Homo sapiens: one gene and its partners. The protein of the gene in region 2 purifies or fractionates together with the protein of the main gene of each other region. This does not show direct contact. Each region holds a gene or a part of one and is shown on either strand. Other genes may lie near its edges.

Region 1 (7,207 bases), 560 kb from region 2:
CTTTAAGGCCAGAGAGTGATTTATATCCAGCACACAGACCCCTTCGCCACACACACACACACACACACACTTCCTATTCTGTTCTCATCCCACTAGCTTGACAGGAATGGCCCCCAAGCTGGGAACAGGTAGACATGCTATCACTGAGAAACAGGCCTTCATCCATACCCCACACAGCAGCCAGAGAGATCTTCTAAAACATAAATCAGATCATGTCCTCTCCCTGCTCAAAACCCTTCCATAGCTCCCCAGAGCCCCCAGACAAAGACAAAGCTCCACAGCCTCCCAAGGGAGGCCCTGCATGATCCAGGCTCTGTCACACCTCTGGCCTTTGCCCAGGACCTCCCCTGTCTGGAGGCCAGCTTTTACATCCACTACTCTGTGAGGCCTTCCTGGGCTTCTGCAGGTACTGCCTTTCAACTTCTCTTTCACCCCTGTATTGCCCTCAGGATACAGCTCAAAATCACAGAGCCCTACACCTGCTGGCTCCTCCCACCCTGCAGCCTCTGGCTCATTCGTTGTCTTGTATTCTATGTTTTTGTTTTTGTTTCAGATGGAGTCTCGCTCTGCCGCCCAGACTGGAGCGTAGTGGCACAATATTGGCTCACTGCAACCTCCAGGTTCAAGTGATTCTTGTGCCTCAGCCTCCTGAGAAGCTGGGACTACAGGCGCGCGCCATCACACCCAGCTAATTTTTGTATTTTTAGTAGAGATGGGGTTTCACCATACTGCCCAGGCTGGTCTCAAACTCCTGACTTCAGGCGATCTGCCGGCCTCGGCCTCCCAAAGTGCTGGGATTACAGGCATGAGCCACCATACCCTGCCAGTATTCTATGTTTTAACACACTGGATTTCTAGTTCTTCAAAAGCATCACTCTCCCGCTTCCCCGCCTTTGCACAGCTATTCTTGCCTGGAATGCCCTTCTGCTCCCTCGTACAGATGCCTCTGATCTCAGCTATACCCCAGGTTAAGCCACATGTCTTCACAGAGAAAGAGCCACTGGGGCAGGGTTCTGAGGCATGCATAGGAGTTTATTGGGTGGAAAAGGAAAACAAACAGCCTCGGAGTGGGTTTGTCTCTCCCACTGACTGGGAGCCCAGAAGGGTAGGGCTGGGGCCTTTCCTCCCACTCCTGACAGATTCCTATTGGTCCTTTAAGTCTCAGCTTAGACATTTCCTCCTCCAGGAAGCCTCTCTGTTCTCCCCGGCCCCAGATCAGGCACTTTCTCTGGGCTCTCCCAGGCCTCTGGGGTTCCTCCATCAAAGACCACTCTTGTCTCTCACTATTAATGTGTTTGTCTCCCCAACTAGACTCCAAGACCTAAGTCACCAGGGATTGCTGGAGCTGTCTCAGTCTGGGCTATGTCCAATGGGAAACATAATGTCTGGCACATGAATGACTGAAGAAAAATGCTTTTATTGAAGTACTTCACAAATAACAACAACAATAATCCTAATGCCATTTATTGAACAGTTACTATATGCCACACATCAGGCATGTTAAATACCTGTTTTCATTTCATTCCAACAACTCTATGAGGTGAGTACTGTTGTTATCCCATTTGTGGGGGAAGGAAACAGAACCTCAGAGAAAGAAAACCACCTGCTCAAAGTCACAAAGCTAATAATAAGAAGCCAGGCACAGTGGCTCACACCTACAATCCCAACACTTTGGGAGGCTGAGGTGCGAGGATCGTTTGAGCCCAAGAGTTCAGGACTAGCCTGGGCGACATGGTGAGACTCTGTCTCTACACACTCAGTTACTTGGGAGGCTGAGGTGGGAGGATCACTTGAGCCCAGGAGGTCGAGGCTGCAGTAAGTAAATTGTGTTGGTACCATTGCACTCCAGCCTGGGTGACAGAGTGAGGCCCCCATCTCAAAAAAAAAAAAAAAAAAAAGTAGTAGTAGTAGAACCAAATTCAAAGCCAAATGATTGGACCCAGACCCTGAGTTCTTAACAGTTACTCAGAAGGCCCGGCACTGATGCTCCTGTCTTGTAATTGTAAATCTGGGTGTAGGTGCATCTCCCCCACCAGACTTGGAGGCCTTCCAGGGCAGGGCCCAGGTTGGCTGCAACCCTGGGTGTCAGGCATTTTAGAGCAAAAGGCCTGGACCAGAACCGAGCTCTGGGAATGTGGTGAGTGGATGAATGCACACATGAATGAACTACCAGCGAATTAGTGAGTGACCCACGCGGCCCCACTCACCCTCGATGAGCCACTCGCAGTTGCCATTGACGCTGTAGTTGCCCGCACCATCCGTCACGAAGCCTGGCGCCTCCCGCAGCACCTGCCGCTGCCCCTTGCAGTCCCCCGCCCGGGCCCCAGGGGACAGCGACCCCAGCACGGCCAAGGCCAAAACCAGTGCCATGGCCAGAACCTTGCCCAGGGCCATCGCCGCCTCCTGCACTGACCCTTAGAGCGGGGACAGGCCGTAAAAACCTGGAGAGGACCCTCTACCCGGGGTGAGGCCCTGCAAATGCGACCTCTATAGGCATAACATGACCTTGTAGATCGAAGAGGTCCCGGAGACCCGGCAGTCCCGGCGAAGGGTACGGCCACTGCTGACAGGCTCTGGAAGCCGAGGGCTGAGCCCTATAGAGCGATGGAAGGCCCTGTATATGGAGTCATTATGGACGGGGCCGAACCCTAGGGACCGTAGGAGTCCCCTATAGACACAGGGCTCCATAGGGGGCCGATCCCATGAACAGTGCCCAGCATTACGGACTCAGGCTGCTGCAGGCCAAACGGACCTTATAGACGGGTGGGTCCCCAGGGGGCGAAGGGCTCTACGGCCCGGCAGGAGCCTCCATAGAGGCTGCGGGCCGGGACAGGCTAGGTTCGGATGGTCCAGGAGAGACTCCTCCAGCCGGGGGCGGGGCGCGAGCGGGTGCCGGGGGCGGAGCCCGTCTTCAGGGGTTCGGGCCTGGACCCCACAGACCCAATCCCTTTGCTCACCCACCCTCGCCTCCCTCCGAAGCCGGATGGGCCAGATCAGAGAGACGAGGGGACGCTTGGGCCAGAGCGGCCGCGGGAAGACCCGCTGTGGGAGGGCGAGGGGGCGGGAGCCGAGCAGCCGCTGTGGGAGGGACGGCGAAGAGGAGGCGAGAAGTTACAGAGCGGCCGGTCAGAGCGGCCCTGGGAGGACTGCGGAGCGCCCAACCCCAACCCTCCATAAAGGGAGACTTCCGGGGAAATCCCCGCCCATTTGTTCCCAACCGCATGCGCAGCAGCGTCCTCCTGGAGGGAGAGAAATACACATATGCGCAGTGCTAAGATCGTAACCCAAACTCTGGGTGCCTGTGGTTCAGCAAAGCATGGGCCACTGGAGGGCGCCTCTACCTCTGAGTGAGGAAAGGAAGGCAAAAATAAAGGAGCGGTGCAAGACCCTGCTAGATGTTTGATCATCTTCAATGTTCCCACATTCTGGGGCAACATAAAGATCAGGTTATACAGGCCCCTGCCTCCGGTTCCAAATTCCCATTTCACAGATGGACACACTGAGGTCCCGAGCCTGACATAGTTCTGGCTCAGCCCCGCCGCTGAACACCATCAAGATGCAAAAGAAGCCATGTTATAGATAAAAACGAATCCTTTTTTATTTTGGCAAGAAGGGGTAAAATGTCTTTCTGCCAGGGACCCGAGGGAAGGCCCCCGGAATGGAGATGCGGCAGATGGAGTACGGGTCCGAGGTCACAGATCCGAGGGAGGGTTTCAGGGTCGAGACCAGCATCGCAATATCCATCCCGGGGTCGCAGAGTCCTGGAGAGTCACAGGCAGGGTCCCGGCGGTCACCACGGGTGTTCCGGAGTCCAGCGGGGTCAGAGGTCTCGAAGGGGGCCAGGGGGCCGGAGGTCACGGAACAGCGGGAGCCCAGAATCCGGCGCCGCTCGGGGCAGGGGCTGAGGGAGGGGACGGGGAGAGCGGCTCCCGCGGGACCGTTTGGCACAGAGGGGAGGGGGGCGGGACGCAGCGTACCCAACCTGGGCGCGCGGGGTGGGAAGGGTCGGGAAGGCCGGGGATGGGCGAGCTCTCGGGCCGGGATAAAGCAGGGGTCCGGAGCCCGGCCGGGGCCCGGTCATGGCCCATGGGGCAGGGGCGGGCAGGGGTGCTCAGACCGGGGGTGCAGTGCCCCCGGCCGTGTGCATGCTGAAGTATTCGGTGAAGCCGGTGTGCGGCGCTGCCGTCTGGGGCACGAGCGGCTGGTAGGGCGGCGTCGGGCCGTCCCAGCCCGAGTCGGCCGCCTTGGGGAACCGAGCGGGAAGTGGGGGGGAGGCTGCGCCCGGCTCGGCCATGGTCACCACGCGGCCCCTCGGGGCCACCGCCGCCGCCACCGCTGTCTCCTCCACCTGCTTCCCGGCCTGGGAGGGGGGTCAGGGTCAGAGGCCGTCCGGGACCCTCGGGGGGCAGATGCGGCCCCGAAGGCCCGTCCCCCTCCCCCGGAGAACCCTTCCACCCCAGGTGTGGACGCACGTTGTCAGTCAGGGAAGGACTGGGTGGCGGGGCGCCTGGGCAGCGGGGCCAGGTACTCAAAGGGCGGCGTCGGGGCGCGCGGGGCGAACTCCGGCGGCGGCCGGGGAGCTGGGGGAGAGCCGCGGAAGGCGGGCGGTGGGGGCACGGCGCAGGGAGTCTGCGGGGGTGTGCGCAACAGCGCCAGAACCCAGTCAGGCAGGGTGGGCGCGGGCGCCAGGGGACGGTCGCGGCGCGGTGTTGGGGCGCGGGGAGTGCGAAAGGCAGGAGGAGGGCTCAGGGGTCCGGGCGCTGGGGGCGGCGGCGGGGCCGGGAGCGGGGTCAGGTACTCCAGGGGCGGCGCCAGCAGCTCCTCGGGCGCTGGGGCCGCGGGGCTTACGGAGGTGGCGGGCGGGGGGATGGAGAAGAGCTCCGTGAAGTTGGGCACCGAGTCGCTGATAAACGTCACGTTCCCATAGACGTGCTGCGGGAAGGCCTTGTCAGCGGATTGGCTCCCTCCGGGTCCAGGGACTCCGGCTGAAGCGATCTGCGACGTGCGCACGTGGTACGGGAAGTTCTTGTTGGCCGCTGATGGGCGGGTCATGATCTGAGGCCAGGGCCAGGAGCAGGTGTGAGAGGCACTGTCAGGCCGGAGGCTGTCCCCATAAACTTGGGGTCCGAAGGATTCCCTTTCAGTTGACATCCACCACACTTCCCTGAAGCCATTCACACTGGATTAGGCGTCCCCTCTGGGCTCTCCAAATGCCCTGGACCCTCACCTTTTCCCTTCAACAAAACTCGGCCTGTGCTTCCTCCATCAGAGGCCTGATCACTGAGCTGTCACTGATTGCTTAGGGTCAGCGTCCTGCACTGTATGATAGCCACTGGCTGCATGTAGCTTAAATTTAATCAAAATAAAATTTAAATTTTGGTCACACTCCTCACTACACACTCACTATGCACTACCCACATTCAAGTGCTCAACAGCCACATGTGGTTAGTAGCTCCCATATTGGAAAGTGCAGGTAATAGGATATTTTCATAAATACAGAAAGTTCAATTGGACAGCAACTAATAGACTCTAAAATGTCTCGATGAGGCAGGAACCAGACTCTTCTGTTCCCTACTGAGTCCCTAGTACCTTCTAGAACCATGCCTGGCGCATATAAGCCTTCAGTAAATATTGGTGGGCAAGGCGCCATGGCTCACGCCTGTAATCCCAGCACTTGGGGAGGCCGAGGCGGGCGGATCACCTGAGGTCAGGAGTTTGAGACCAGCATGGCCAACATGGTGAAACTCCATCTCTACTAAAAATACAAAAATTAGCCAGGTGTGGTGGTGCGCCTGTAATCCCAGCTACTTGGGAGGCTAAGGCAGGAGAATTGCTTGAACCCAGGAGGCAGAGGTTGCAGTGAGCCGAGATCATGCCACTGCACTCCAACCTGGACGACAGAGGAAGATTCCATCTCAAAAAAAAAAAATTTAAAATAAATAAATAAATAAATAAATATTGGTGGAATGTAGGGATGTCTGGTACCAGTTAGTCTGATAGGCTGTGAAGGCAGGGACTGGGTGTGACTCCACCGCCATATCCCGGAAACCTAACACAGCTCTTCTAAGGTTGTGCTGAAAAAAATGAACAAGGAGCTGAAAGCAATGAGCGTTGAGATACCCAGGTGGAGCTGTGCTGAGCTAACGTGAGCATCCTTAGGAAGGAAGCTGGCTGAGATACAGCAGGAAGGGCGCTGTGCTTGCCGTTCTGAGCCTGCATCCCGCCTCTGGGATCTGTAGCTCACTGAGTATGGGATCTGGGGCATGTTGATTAAACTCCCTGAGCCTCGCTGTGGGGAAAAGGGACTGTAGCGCCTACTTGGAAAGATGAGAGGGTGGAAATGAAAACCACTGGTGCAGAGCCCAGCACATGATGGGTTCTCAGCATTTCTCCTCTTTCTGTCCCTTTCTGACTTCCTGCAGAGCTTCAGGATAGACCAGCCTGGGAAGGTGAGCGAGTCTGTACCTATGTCAGCCTCTGAGGCAAAGGATGGGGACCTGTCCCCTCCCTCGGTGGCTGGGCCCACTCCCTACACGGGGTACGTTGTAGATCCCTGGAGTCAGAAGCTGGGACACTGGGTCATGCCTGTTGCCCTTTCTGGTTCCCCTTCATTTCAGACCTTGTGGTCTGCTGGAGAAGGATAGGGTTCAAAGTATTTGCCTGCCGCCAAAGGCCACGGAGCCCTGGCACGTCACTTCTCCTCTCTGGGCCTTAGCTTCCCCGCTCTGTGTAGTGGGAACAATGTCAATTATCCACCCTCTCCTGGAGCTGCTCTGACAATTAAACAAGAGGGCAGGAGTAAATGCATATGGATGTTCCTAGAATGAAACAGACTGGTTCAAGACAGGTGCCCAGTGAACAATTGATGAATAAATTAATGAATATTAGAACTGTCACCAAGAATGTCAGATAGGATGTGAACCAGGGCAAAGAATAGACGTGGTGGGGGCCAGGCGCAGTGGCTCACTCCTGTAATCCCAGCACTTTGGGAGGCCGAGGCGGGCGGATCATGAGGTCAGGAGATCGAGACCATCCTGGCCAACATAGTGAAACCCCGTCTCTACTAAAAATACAAAAAAAATTTGCTAGGCGTGGTGGTGGGCGCCTGTAGTCCCAGCTACTAGGGAGGCTGAGGCAGGGGAATGGCATGAACTTGGGAGGCAGAAGTTGCAGTGAGCCGAGATCGCACCTCTGCACTCCAGCCTGG
Region 2 (7,137 bases):
AGGAGGCCTGGACATTTTTTTGCACTGACTCTGATGGTTGAAGCAGGTGATTTAGTTCTGGAGTGCAGACTAATCAGCTGACCATTTGCTCTCACTCCTCTGAGGTTTGGATGCCTAAGAAGAGAGGATTTGAGCCAACAAATGACTATGGGGTGCTTGGAACCCAGTAAGCCCTCACTTCTGGTGGAGTAGAGGATGGGCCTGTGGCTACAGACAGACCTCATGTGACCCTGATCTCCCCTTTGTGTTTGTGTGACTCTTGCTCAGTCACTGTGCCTTCCTGTGCCTCAGTTTTCTCTCAATCAAATAAGCTAAATGGCAAATGGACTGTGGCTTTTCATGCTATCTGTGAATAAATGTTAAATTATTCACAGTCACCTGACCTAATGCTTGGCACAGTGGAGGTTTCACACAAACAGCATTTATTATTAATTTGCTTCCATGAGAAAGCACCTTTACGTCAGATCCCTGTGGACAAGCTGCTACCTGGTACATCTTCTCTCTTCTGTTTCTGCTTCTGGGGACATTAGTCTTTCTATGGACTATCCTAAGCCTCCTAAGGCAGTTGGGTGATGGCCTACAAAGCTTGTCTTTCTGTCCTCTCCACTCTGAGTATCAGGTGAAGAAAGCTCTGTCCTGGCCCAGATGAGGCTCTGAGGGCTGAGCCCTGGCTGGTGAACAGCTCCAGGAGACACAGTCCTCTGACAGCTGGTAAATCCTTGGTCCCAGTAAGCCCTGCCCAAGAAGCCACAACCCAGTCCCAGCACAGGCTCCTCAGCTTTATCTGGAACAAGGATTTAGGGACAAGGGTCTGGGGTTGAGGCTTCTAGGGCTGAGCTTCTCTGAGAGTATCTCAGGGGGCCCCTCAGGCCAAGCCCTACTCAGTTATCCAGGGTCTTTCTCAGGGTCAAATTTATGAAGAGGGCATGAGGTGCTTGGCTGAGACTGATCTCCTCCTGCTGAGTCCCCCCATCAGACTGTCCTTCCTCTGCAGCGAGTGTCTGCAGGGTCTGGATGCAGGAAAGGAATTCTGATCTGTTGAAATTTGTCTCCTCTGTGTGTGTCCTGCACTAAATGCCCAAATCCCAGCATGGGACATAACGCAGTGAGTGACACAGGCAGAGTCCAGGCCTGACAATCCTGTGTGTGTGAAGTAGAAGTGACCCCTGTCCCCCAACACCCAGGGATCATGTGGAATCACTTACGGTGTAAGGTGAAGGTGAAACGTCCAGTTACTCCTCTAGTCCCATCATCTCCCTTTATGATGTGTAAGGTGTAGGATCCTGCGTCCTCCCGGGTGACATTCTGGATCAGCAGGGATGCATTGGAATATGCTGTTTCTCGTCCACTATATGCAGGCCCATATATAATTATTTCACCGTCTACTACATATGATGTAATGTAATGGTAGAGGTCCCTCATTTGCCCTTTGTACCAGATGTAGCCGGTAAGATTCTGGGGCAAATTGTGGACAAGTAGAAGAACATCCTTCCCCTCGGAAACTTTGGTTGGCTCGGCTTCAATCGTGACTTGGGCAGTGGTGGGCAGGTTCCAGAAGTTTAAAAGTGATGCTAGGAGGTGGAGAGAACATCAGTCAATATTGAGACCTATGTATTGGTGTGAAAACATGGGGCCCTGGGTCCTGAGAAGGTCTCTTCAGTCCTCAGCCTTGACAACACAGACACACACACACATACAAACACACACACACACACACACACAAAAGCGGCATGTGTGATTGTGTGTGTGTATGTGTGTGTGTCCTACTGTCCTACTAGGTCAAGGTCAGCAGCATGACGCCCATTCCTTCAACACTTCTGACGTTGGCATTTTTCTGTTTGGAATCCTCTTCCCCAGGGGTCCGCATGGCCCCCTCCACAATGCCCTCAGGTCCTGCTTACATCAGGGCATCGTTAGACTTCTTTCCTGATGCCTGCTTCAGAGACCCTGGGTCTTCCCTTTCTGACCTTTCCCTGCTCTGCTCCCTCCAGGGTTCTTGTCAACACCTGACCTCACATTCTAGATCTCTTTGCATGTCTGTCTTCCCCCCCATGACAGCGTGAGCTCCGTGAAGACAGGGACTTTTGTGATCTTGGTTGCACCCCAGTGCCTGGAACAGGCTGCAGACTCCTGTAGATGTGAGAGTTCTCAGGGCCCTCCATGCCCTGGGTGTTTTTTTTCCCCCAATTGTTGAGGTTTCTTGCTGAGGACAGTGTTTCCTGCCCTGTTTATATTTTTATTTGAGGTGTCATCTGCTATAGTTATTATTATCATTTTTCAAAATATGGTGGCCCCTGATGATTAATCAGGAAAACAGAACACTTAAGATTTTCCTACCTCTTACCAATTCCGGTCCAATACGACTTTCCTGTTTTGACCCCTGTCCCTCTCTGGTGTATTTTCCCCTATCCAGGCTCCAACAGAGCCTTCTTTCCTTTTTTTCTTTTTTCTTTTTTTTTTTTTGAGATGGAGTCTTGTACTGTCGCCCAGGCTGGCATGCGGTGGTGCTATCTCAGCTATCTGCAACTTCTGCCTCCCGGGTTCACGTGATTCTCCTGCCTCAGCCTCCCGAGTAGCTAGGATTATAGGAGCACACCACCATACCTGGTTAAATTTTTGTATTTTCAGTACAGACAGGGCTTCACTGTGTTGGCCAGACTGATCTTGAACTTCTGATCTCATGATCCACCCACCTCAGACTCCCAAAGTGCTGGCTTCTTTCATTTTTTAGAACCCCATCCTCTCCAGGAGACCCCATCCAGTCACTCTGCTTCCTCCTCCTGTCCTCTCCCAGGAAGTTCTCTCCTCACCTGTGAGCAGGAGCCCCTTCCATTTGATGCGCTGTGTGCAGGGAGGGGCTGAGAGGGTTCCCATGGTCTCTGCTGCTTGTGTGTTCTCCTCTGTGGAGATAAGCCTAGGATCCAGAAACTCTCTGAGCACGGCTGTCAGCTGTGCTGTCCTTCCTCTTTCTGTGCTGAGCCTCTTCCCAGGGCAGGAGCAATTCTCAAGCTCATGGGCAGGGTCAGGCCCAGGACACCTCTCTGTCCCCTCCTCTCTAAGTCCTGCCTCCTTGTCCCTCCTTCTGTTTCTCCTTTTGTCTGTGTTTCAGGTCCCTGGGAATTGTGGCGGCCTCTGCCTTTTTCAGCAGTGATTCTTTCACCAAACCTCAAGACACACTTTGTGCAGACACACAGACACACACACACACACACACACACACACACACAGAAGAGATACACACAGACCCACACAGTCAGACACATACCCTGCAGGTTGGGCAAGAACAGTCCTGGGCCTCAGCCTCCTGGTGTCCCCATGGCTCTGGGTCGGGGTGCAAATTAACGCCCTTTGGCCTCTTTCATCCCCATCAGGCTCTCCCCTTCAGTGCAGGAGGCTGGAGCTGTACCAGGTCCCTGTCAGAATGATGCCCCATTGTGCTGTGGGTGAGCTGTGTGTTGCCTGGTGAGAGGGACCCTTCCTTTCTCTAATCATGTCTAGCTTGGCTGCAGCTTCCAAGGATGGACATTCAGGACCTGGGTGTCCCAGAGGAAACTGTCCTTTCTGGCGGTGTGCAGGGTGAATCTCTCATGCCTCTTGGGAGGAGAGGCCTGTGCTGGTTGCTCAGTGGGGGCTGTGAGTCCCATAGTCAAAGGGACAGTTCTCTGTCAGTCTATGGCTCCCTGGGGTCTGGCGGCTGAGCTGGAGCTCATAGTTTCTCATGTTCTTCCTGACCATCTTTGATGTCCTCTCTTCTCTGCCCAGCTGACTGTCCTGTGGTCACCACACCTTCCCTGTGGTGGTGCAGGAGGAAGTGGGGAGTTACCCAGGAACCCTGCGGGACATGGCTCATTGAGATGCGGGAGGGGGAGCCTGGGACAGAGCAGGGGTTCAGAGCTGGAGAGATTCATCCCAACTTACTCCGTGGCCATGATGGGCTCAGCCCTCCATATGCTGACATACCCAGGGGTCTGTCCTGATGGTTTTGACCTGGCCAAGCTGCTGTGTGTAGAGGAGGAACAGGCAGTGGCCAGAGAGCCTGTCTGGAGGGACATTGCTCTCACCTGAGAGGGCGGGTGGGGGTGAGTTGTGTTCTGAGATCAAAGAGCAATAACATTCCCCTTCTTCCCGCAAGCACACAGGAGAGGTCTGTCTTCCCAAGGGACAGCTGGTGTTAGGTGGCCACATCCCGGATGGTGCCTGTGTGTGACCATCACACGCGCTCTGAGCCCCCAGGGTGCAGCGGGCAGGCAGGTCACAGGGTGCCTGGCTGATTCCCGGGGAGGCTGTGGGCCCTCAGGCAGCCGCTGTTCTGTGTCAGCGCTAGGCTTGGCCTGGGATGCCCCAGAGAACAGGACAGATGGAGCAGGGGTGGGCATTTAGGGAGCAGTGCCAGAAAGAGTTGATGAGGATGGAGGGAGGTCACGAGGGGAAAGCACCCGGTGTGGCATCGCGTGCACCAGCGCTGCCCTGGGAGATGCCTTTAGCTGGGCCCAGGGAAGGAGCAGGTGTGTGGGGAGGAGCTACCTGCAGGGGGAGTGGTGTTAGGTTGGCGGCCGCCAGGTCAGGGAGGAGCTGACAGTGTCCGTGTGGGGAGCATGGAGGGCGCTGAGGACTTGGGCAGAAGTGACCCTGTAGAGGGTGGACACTGCTGGGCTGTGGGTTCCGCTGAGTGAGGTTGGCATCCCCTGGGAAGACTCCAGGCTGGGAGGGACTCTGTCCCCCTCTGGTGGACAGGGAGGGAAGTGTGAACGGCAGCAATTCCAGGCCAGGATGCATGTTTTATTCCACGTGGATCTGCACAGTTCACACGAGGTCACACCTGTGTTATGTTACAGCCCCATCACCTTCCAGCCCCGTGAGTCCCAGTCTCTGTGGCTCTATGTTCACTGTTCTCCCTCTTTCACAATCAGATGTCCCAAATGCAGATTTTTGTCACCTTCTGTGAGTTTGTGTTTGTGTGCAGTAGGCGGCACTGTGTATACCCTGGGGGCAGTGATGTCTGGGGCTGAGCACTGCAGTTGGGCTTGGGAGCAGCAGGGTGGGAAGATCAATGTCAGGGGGGCAGGGACAAGTCATTTTCATTTTCTCACTCCCAGGGACCAGAACCCAGGATTCTGACTCCAGGGCAGAGTACCACACCCTGCTGGTGTCCCTGGATGTCATGATGCTCATAGTGTCATGTTGCCTTGGCATTCATTTTTTAAGGTGTAAGTTTATTTGCCTCAAATCAGAGGCAGGGCTTGGTCACCATGGCAGTTTTCAATACTGTGTCTGGTTCAAGTGGCTCCAGTTGGTGTCCAGAGATCAAATCTTAGAGACATCTCTCCTGCTTGGTGTGCTGGGCTCCCGTCTCTCCAGCTGCTTTCTTTAAACTGATAATTCTGACATTCGCCCTCACATTAAAAGTGACCACCTCTCAGTCACAGCGTGAGCTCCTGTTCCCAGTGTTTGCTGCTTGCTTTGAACACATCCATTAAAGCTCCCTGCTGGAAACCTGTCAGATAACACCCTGGACTTAATAAAGCCATTGGCTTACCGGTCTCTTCTCTCCTCCCTCCCTGGGCTCACTGACCTCTGTGTCTGTGGTCTCCAGGTGTGCCAAGTGCTTCCCAGTGTCTGTAAGTAGTAAAAATACTTACACTTTCACGTTGTGGTTGTATTGCTGTGGCCTCACATGCCATCCAGGGCCTGACATTGAGGCTGCCTTATGGGACCTGTGCTGGCTGAGCCCCTGCTGGAGCTCTTGTTTTGGGGCCTCTGGTTCTCTTGGGGACAGGAGCTTCCAGCTAACTTGATTGAAAAACTGATGCATTTCATTGAAAACACTGGGTCAGATGATGTATTCATAGGCTTCAGCTCCTATAACAAACACCTTAGCCTGGGTGAATTAAATAATAGAAATCTATTTTTCACAGTTCTGTGAATAATGTGCTATTTTAACCACTTTAAAATGCACAATCAATGAAATTAACCGCATACACCGTGTTAAATTACCATCACCAGTATTTTTCCTAGAAAATTGTTATCATTTTAAACTGAAACTTTGTATCTTTTAAACAATAACTCCCTGTATGTTCCACCCTAGGCCTTGATCACCTCTACTCTGTCTCTATGAATTTGCCTATTCTTGATGTTTCATATAAATGGAATTATACAATTATGTTATTTTGTTTCTGACACATTTCACTTAGCATAATGTTTTCCAAGTCCATGCATGTTCCAGCGGGTGTCAGAGCTTCCTTCCTCTTTATGGCAGATTATCATTCTGTTTTATGTGTCACCATATTTGTTTATTCATGTGTTGATGAACACTTGGATTGTTTTCATATTTTATCTTTTCTGAATAATGCTGCAATGAACATTCCCATGCAAGTACCTTTTTGAGTCCGTGGATTTAATTCTTTGGGTATATACCTAGGAATGGATGTTATTTCAAATGAGAATTCTATAATTAGCTTTTTGAGGAACAGCAATACTCTTTCTCCTAGCTGCTGTACTTTTTTATATTCTCACCAGCCATGTATGAGGATTCCAAATTCTACATAATGCTGCTACTTGTTATTTAACATTTTAAAAGAACGGTAGCCAGTTTTGTAGGTTTGATGTGGTGTCTCATTGCAGCTTTGACTTTGTATTTTCCTAATGACTAATGATGTTTAGTATCTTTTCATGTCCTTCTTGACTATTTGTATATCTTCTTTGAAGAAATGTATATTTGAGTCTTTTGCCCATTTATAAATTTAATGGTTTCTCCTTTTGTTACTGAGTTGTAGCTAGTTCTTTATATTATCTGGACATGAAAACTGCCTATATGTGGTTGTCAAATATTTTCTCTCATTCTGTGTCTATTAATTATTGTCTTGATAATTTTCTTTGATGTACAAAAGGCTCACATCTTGATAAAGCCCAATTTATCTTGTTTTTCTTGTTTCTCATGCTTTTGTATCATATCTAAGAATCCATTGCACATTTGAGTTCATCAATATTTACCTCTATGTCTATTTTAAGATGTTTTATAGGTCTGATATTTAACTCACTGATGAATTTTTCAGAGAATTGTTTGATATGGTGGGAGGTAGAGTTATCTAAATTCACTGTTTTGCATGTGGTTATCTAGTTGTTTCTGCATTATCATTA
Region 3 (5,130 bases), on a different chromosome or scaffold from region 2:
GCACTTCCCACTGAGCTTGGCTGCCTGCAGCCCCAACCAGCGCATCGTCGTCTGCCACCTAGAATGTCGTCTGGCAGTGCCTGGGCCCGAGATGGCTTCTGTGACCACCCCGCTCCCTACGTTTCCCTCCCTGACGCTACTCTCCCAGGCAGCAGTGGGGATCAGGCCAAGGATGCTGGTGAGAAGTCCAGCTCTCGCTAGTCCCCACGAGCATGGCTGAGTCTCCTGCCTCCAGCTGGGCCCAACTGCCCCTGTCCCTGGAGGCCCCTTTCCATCCATCCTGTAAGACTCTGACGTTAGCTTCAGAAGCCACCAGGAGGTCCCCTGCACACTGTGGCCTCTGCACCCCAGATCATGGCCCCTGTTTGTCCACAAGCATTTTTTTTCCCCTGTTCTGGCCACCTGTTGGAGCTCTTCATAGGTGTGAGCGTCTGCATCGAGTTCCCTGTCATTCTCCAGAGCTGTTTGTCGTAGGTCCTGCTGTTGGAGGGCGCCCACTAGGACTCTGAGAGGTGAGACAGTTGGCATCACATGAATGGTGAGTCAGGGCTGGAGCAGGACTTGAGCCCTGAGTGTGCCGCCTGCCTGCAGGCGCCTCTGGGGAGCTGGCCACGGGCATCCTCACGTCTGCGCCCCTGGCACAGAGCACAGGCTTGGCCAGCAGCCGTCCAGAAGCGGCGGGGAATTGCTGAGCTGGAACCTGAGCGACCTCCAGGGCAGCCCCTTGCTCCAGTGTTGCGGTTGGATCCACAGCCTAGGGGATAGCAGCCAGCGGCTGCAGGAGGCCCCCGCTTACCCACTAAGGGTGATCTTGCTGTGAACATTCTCTCCTTCTCTCTCTTTCTCTCCCACTGGGCACCCCGTACTCCAGGCCCTTTAAGGCGCAGACTCCCAACCCTTCTTTCCCACCCGCCTCCAGCATGGGGGGGCTGCCGAATGCAAGGCAGGCATCCGGCTGCCGACAGCTTGTCTTCTCTTCAGGGTGTTGCTGGGGCCTAGCCACTGGGGTGCAGGGCAGGGTTCCAGTCCTGGCTCTGGGAAAGGCCGAGCTCATTAATCCACTGTGGGCTCCGTCACTGCTGCAGGAGGGACAGTACAGTACATTCTCTCCTGTCTTAAAGAAGTTGCTACAGATGGGAAATCCCAGAGCACAGGCCTGAGGATTTCTGCCAGCCTTGAGGGTTGGGCCTGGCTAAGCAAGTGCCCAGGACGGAGTCCGTCCGTCCAGGCATCAGCAGTCATTCGTTCCTGTGCCAGGCTGGGGGATAGAGCAGCATCCCACCCTTGATGGGGCAGGCTGAGCCTAGTGGGGCAGGCCCTACACCAACAACCCACAGGATGCACGTTGGCCAAGACCTGCTGCACACAGGAAGTGCAGGGCGGCCGCTGACCCTTGTCCACTCTGCAAGCTGGAGGATTAGCCCATTTCACAGTTGAGGCCAGGCCCCAGGGAGCACCTGCCAAAAATTAAAGGGACCCAGCCTGAGAGGGAACAAAGGGACCCAGCCTGAGAGGGAACACAGGAGCCTGGCCCCGAGGCTCCCCAACCCCTGTGCCTCTAGCTGTCATCTGTATTCCTTTCAGCAACTCAGGGTGCCTTGGGGGACACCCCCAGGTAGGTAGCGTGGCTGTTTAGTTCCAGGTAGCAGTGAGGCCTTGCCCTGAAGGGACCACATGTCAGCATGTGGCGTGCTGGGATGGGGCCAAGACCGGGCAGCCAGGCCCCAGAGGTTCGGGTTTGCAGTCTTAGAGCATCTCAGGATGGTTAGGGCCCCTGTGACCCCAGCTTCTCACTTGTGAGGAGCTTGAAGGGATTTGGGGGCCTTCTCAGTCGCCGAACCCAGCCTCTGTATCTGGAAACAACTTGAGCACGTGGGGAGGGCAGAATTCCTGCAAAGCAGCCTTCAGAGAACAGACGGCCCAGCACTGTGTGGGATGGAGAGGTGTACCCCACTTAAAGGGGACAGCCGTGGAGCCTCAGTGCTGGCTTCAGTGTTTAATTGAAATGTAACTAAGGTTACTTAATACACACAAGCATACAACTAGAAAGCCCCTTATGTTCTTGTTCTTACACAACTAAAACTAACACGTACAGCTTAAATACAACCAAAGCCAAAAACCGCGGACAGCGTCACCATTAATCACTGCTTTGCTGAGGCTCCTTGCCTTATGGAGTGCATGAACACTCAGGGTTGCTAGAGTGCTCCGCCTGCCTGTGCCCGCCTGTGCGAGAGGGCTCACCTTTTCCTTTCAGGGCCTCGGAGTGGTATGTGAGAGGGAACTTACTCTATTAGGGGAATTGGCTCACTTGGTGATAGAGGCTGAGAAGTCCCATGATAGGCTGCAAGCTGCAGAACCAGGAGAGCTGGGGACAGACCTCAGCCCAAGGACAAAGAGCCAAGAGCCTGGGGTGGGGGTGGGGTGGTGGGCAGCAAGTCCCAGAGGCCAGAGAACCTGGAGCTCTGATGCCCGATGGCAGGAAAAGAGCAACCTAGCTCCAGAAGAAAGAAACCTGAGTCCCCATTTCCTTAGCTTTTTATTCCACCAGGGCCCCTGCCCATCTGATGGTGCTCACCTGCAACCACGGCTCTCACGCCGGTCACCTCTGGAAGCACAGACTCACTGGGGCGGCCTGGCCATTCGAATCAAGTACCAAGCCGCCTGGGTTTCCCTTCCAGCACTGAGAATACGTAATGTGTCCCCGGGCGTCTGGGTATCCCCGAATCCAATCAAGTTGACACCTGAGTCACCTGCCACTCAGTGGGGAAAGCAGGCCTGGGGTGCCTGAATCACCAGACTGCGCTGCCGGTGAATGGTGGATCTGGCGTTCTCACGCCCGAGCCTCATGGGCAGCTGTGTCATTGTCATTTTGTTCCAGATCAGGTCAGAACAGAACAATGTGGCCACTGATTGATTTTCTCTTCCTCTCCTCCCTCCACAGACCGCGGCCTTCAGTGTCACAGCGTGGCCTTGCTTGTCTGCCACAGCGGGAGCTAAGCCGGCCCTGGGCCAGCACTCCGAGAGGTGGAAGGGGCCCTGCCAGCTCTGGGGAGCAGCAGCCTTGGGCTGTTCTGAGCTTTAGGCAAGAGAAGAGAAGCATCTCTTGCATCCGTGCCCCTGGGGGCCTCTTCAGCTTTGCAGTGGTTTGTGGGAAGACATACCTCCCAGAGGGGCATGGACTGCCACCAGGACTGACCCTGGCGTCGGGGAGAAGGACACTTGCAGAGCCTTGAGATCACCTGTTTGGCAGGTCCTGGACTGGGGCCGGGCAGGCAGGGGCAGGGAGGCGCCCCGGGTGGGCTTTGGGGCTGCGGCACTGCCACACATCCTTTCCCTCCTGGCCTGCCCTGCTGGGGCTCTACTGCCATCTATAGATGGTGTCCTGGGCCTGGGAAACTAGGTTCCCAGGGGTTGAGACCAGAAAGGTGACCAAGACAGATTTTTTAAGGTGCAGAAACTGCAGGGGGGCCTCAGTGACATCCATGAGGCCTTATTAGCAAAGGACACCCAGACCTCCAAGGTTTGTGGGCCCCTTCCACAAAGCTGTAAGTCCCAGCCCACCTACTCAGGGCCTTGCTCAGTGCTGTGGCCCGGTGGGGACACAGTTGCTCGTGGCCACTCAGTGGAGCTGGGCCTGCAGCAGACTCAAGGCTCCGAGTGCCCTGGGGGTCACCCCTCCCCTCCCCTCCTCAGAGCCCACCCTGAGAGGCAGCAGTGACCCCCATGGCACACACCTGCCAACAGCACTGGGGGCTTCTCCCCAGGAGACCACGCTGCCCTCCAAGACCAGGAGCAGCTGTGAGCTGGAGACAGCAGAGGGACCCCAGGGTGTCCCCTGCAGATCCCACCAGGGCCGCATCCATCTCAGTGTGGAGGACAGTGACGGGACCCTCACCATCCTCTTGCGTTTTGGCCCCCATTTGCTCCCTGAGCTCCAAGATAAGAATGGCCCCGAGAGAACTGCTGAACATTTGTTCATTGCTGTCACCTCCTGAGTCACTGGGGTCCCTCACCAGCACCTCCCTGACACCTGGGCTATGGAGAGGTTGGCGCCTGTCAGTGACCATCCTAATGCCTCTCGCTCACTCCCAAGCCACCATTTGAGAGGGAGGGGTGTTGGTGCCCTGACAGGGACTGGGCAGGGTGTCCAAACTTGGGGCTTCCCAGGCACCTGCAGTGTGAACACTGCTTGGCTGGCTCAAGATTAGGGCCGCGGAGGGGGCTGTGCACATACCAGTTACTTAAGCAGCCACGAGTGTCCCCCATGCCTTGGTGCGGGTCCTGGAGGCCTCTTGGGGGTGGGACCTTTGGGCAGGGTTTGCCCACTGACACGCCCGCCATGGGGCACTGGCTGCATGGGGCTCCTTGGACCCTGTAGACCCAGCAGACCCCGCCTGTGTCAGGCCAGCTGCCCGAAGGCACTTGGCTGTGGTCCCAGGGGACGGCTCTGCTGGCACACTCAGGAGCCTGGCCGCGGGGACTGCAGGGAGGGTGCCTGGACCCGTGGGGTTGCTTCATTGAGATAAAGCACACTTATCACATAGCACAAAGGACGTGCCATGGTGCTTTCCCCAAAAGTTGTGTTGCTTTTATCAGTTTTCTAACTTAATAAAAAGAGTTGAGAAAATTCTTTGCCTGCCTTGTGTGCTGGGATCAGTCTTGGAGACATTGCTGGTGGCTGACTTTGGTCTTGTCCCACCAGCCAAGGCTCAAGGCCTGCCTGCTGGCATCTGCCCCTCTCATGAGCTGGGAAGGGGGAACCCACCCAGATGAGAGGTCTCCCCATTCCTGTGCCTCCTGAAGTTGCTTTAGAAGCCATGAAGTTGATTCCGTGGAGAGTCCTGATCCTGTCTGCCCCTCCTGAGAGTGATTCTCTCCTGGAAACTCTGGTAAATAGAAGTTGGGAATGTAATTCCATCCATTCGAAAAGGCAGAACCTCCAGTTGATGCTCCTTTGTCTGAAAATAACCCGAGCGCCATTCAGAGGGGCGAAATGGCTCCAGGAGGCAGCTTCACGGCCGCAGCGCCAGCTCACGGCACCGTTGCGCCCACTGGTTGCACCGTGGGCCCTGGGCTACCTGCCCTCCTTGTGCGTTTTCATAGTCACCATGAACCTCATGAGCTCAAGCG

The links. The genes of interacting proteins can lie anywhere in the genome.
Region 1: the proteins of PSG1 (region 2) and MEGF8 purify together in Homo sapiens (affinity purification with mass spectrometry; 2 studies listed by BioGRID and IntAct, with this or other methods). This does not show direct contact.
Region 3: the proteins of PSG1 (region 2) and KLHL25 purify together in Homo sapiens (affinity purification with mass spectrometry; 2 studies listed by BioGRID and IntAct, with this or other methods). This does not show direct contact.

Annotation. Positions count from the first base shown.
Region 1 is NC_000019.10:42,321,431-42,328,637, reverse strand, and holds the start of MEGF8 (multiple epidermal growth factor-like domains protein 8 isoform 1 precursor), read right to left. Parts: upstream 3,004-7,207; 5' UTR 2,395-3,003; coding exon 2,208-2,394; intron 1-2,207. Other genes in the region: TMEM145 (transmembrane protein 145 isoform 1 precursor), read right to left, coding at 4,112-4,360, 4,849-5,055. UniProt on the Homo sapiens protein: Acts as a negative regulator of hedgehog signaling.
Region 2 is NC_000019.10:42,876,708-42,883,844, forward strand, and holds the start of PSG1 (pregnancy-specific beta-1-glycoprotein 1 isoform 2 precursor), read right to left. Parts: upstream 3,007-7,137; 5' UTR 2,875-3,006; coding exon 2,811-2,874; intron 1,572-2,810; coding exon 1,206-1,571; intron 1-1,205.
Region 3 is NC_000015.10:85,758,823-85,763,952, reverse strand, and holds the end of KLHL25 (kelch-like protein 25), read left to right. Parts: intron 1-2,941; 3' UTR 2,942-4,627; downstream 4,628-5,130. UniProt on the Homo sapiens protein: Substrate-specific adapter of a BCR (BTB-CUL3-RBX1) E3 ubiquitin ligase complex involved in various processes, such as translation homeostasis and lipid synthesis.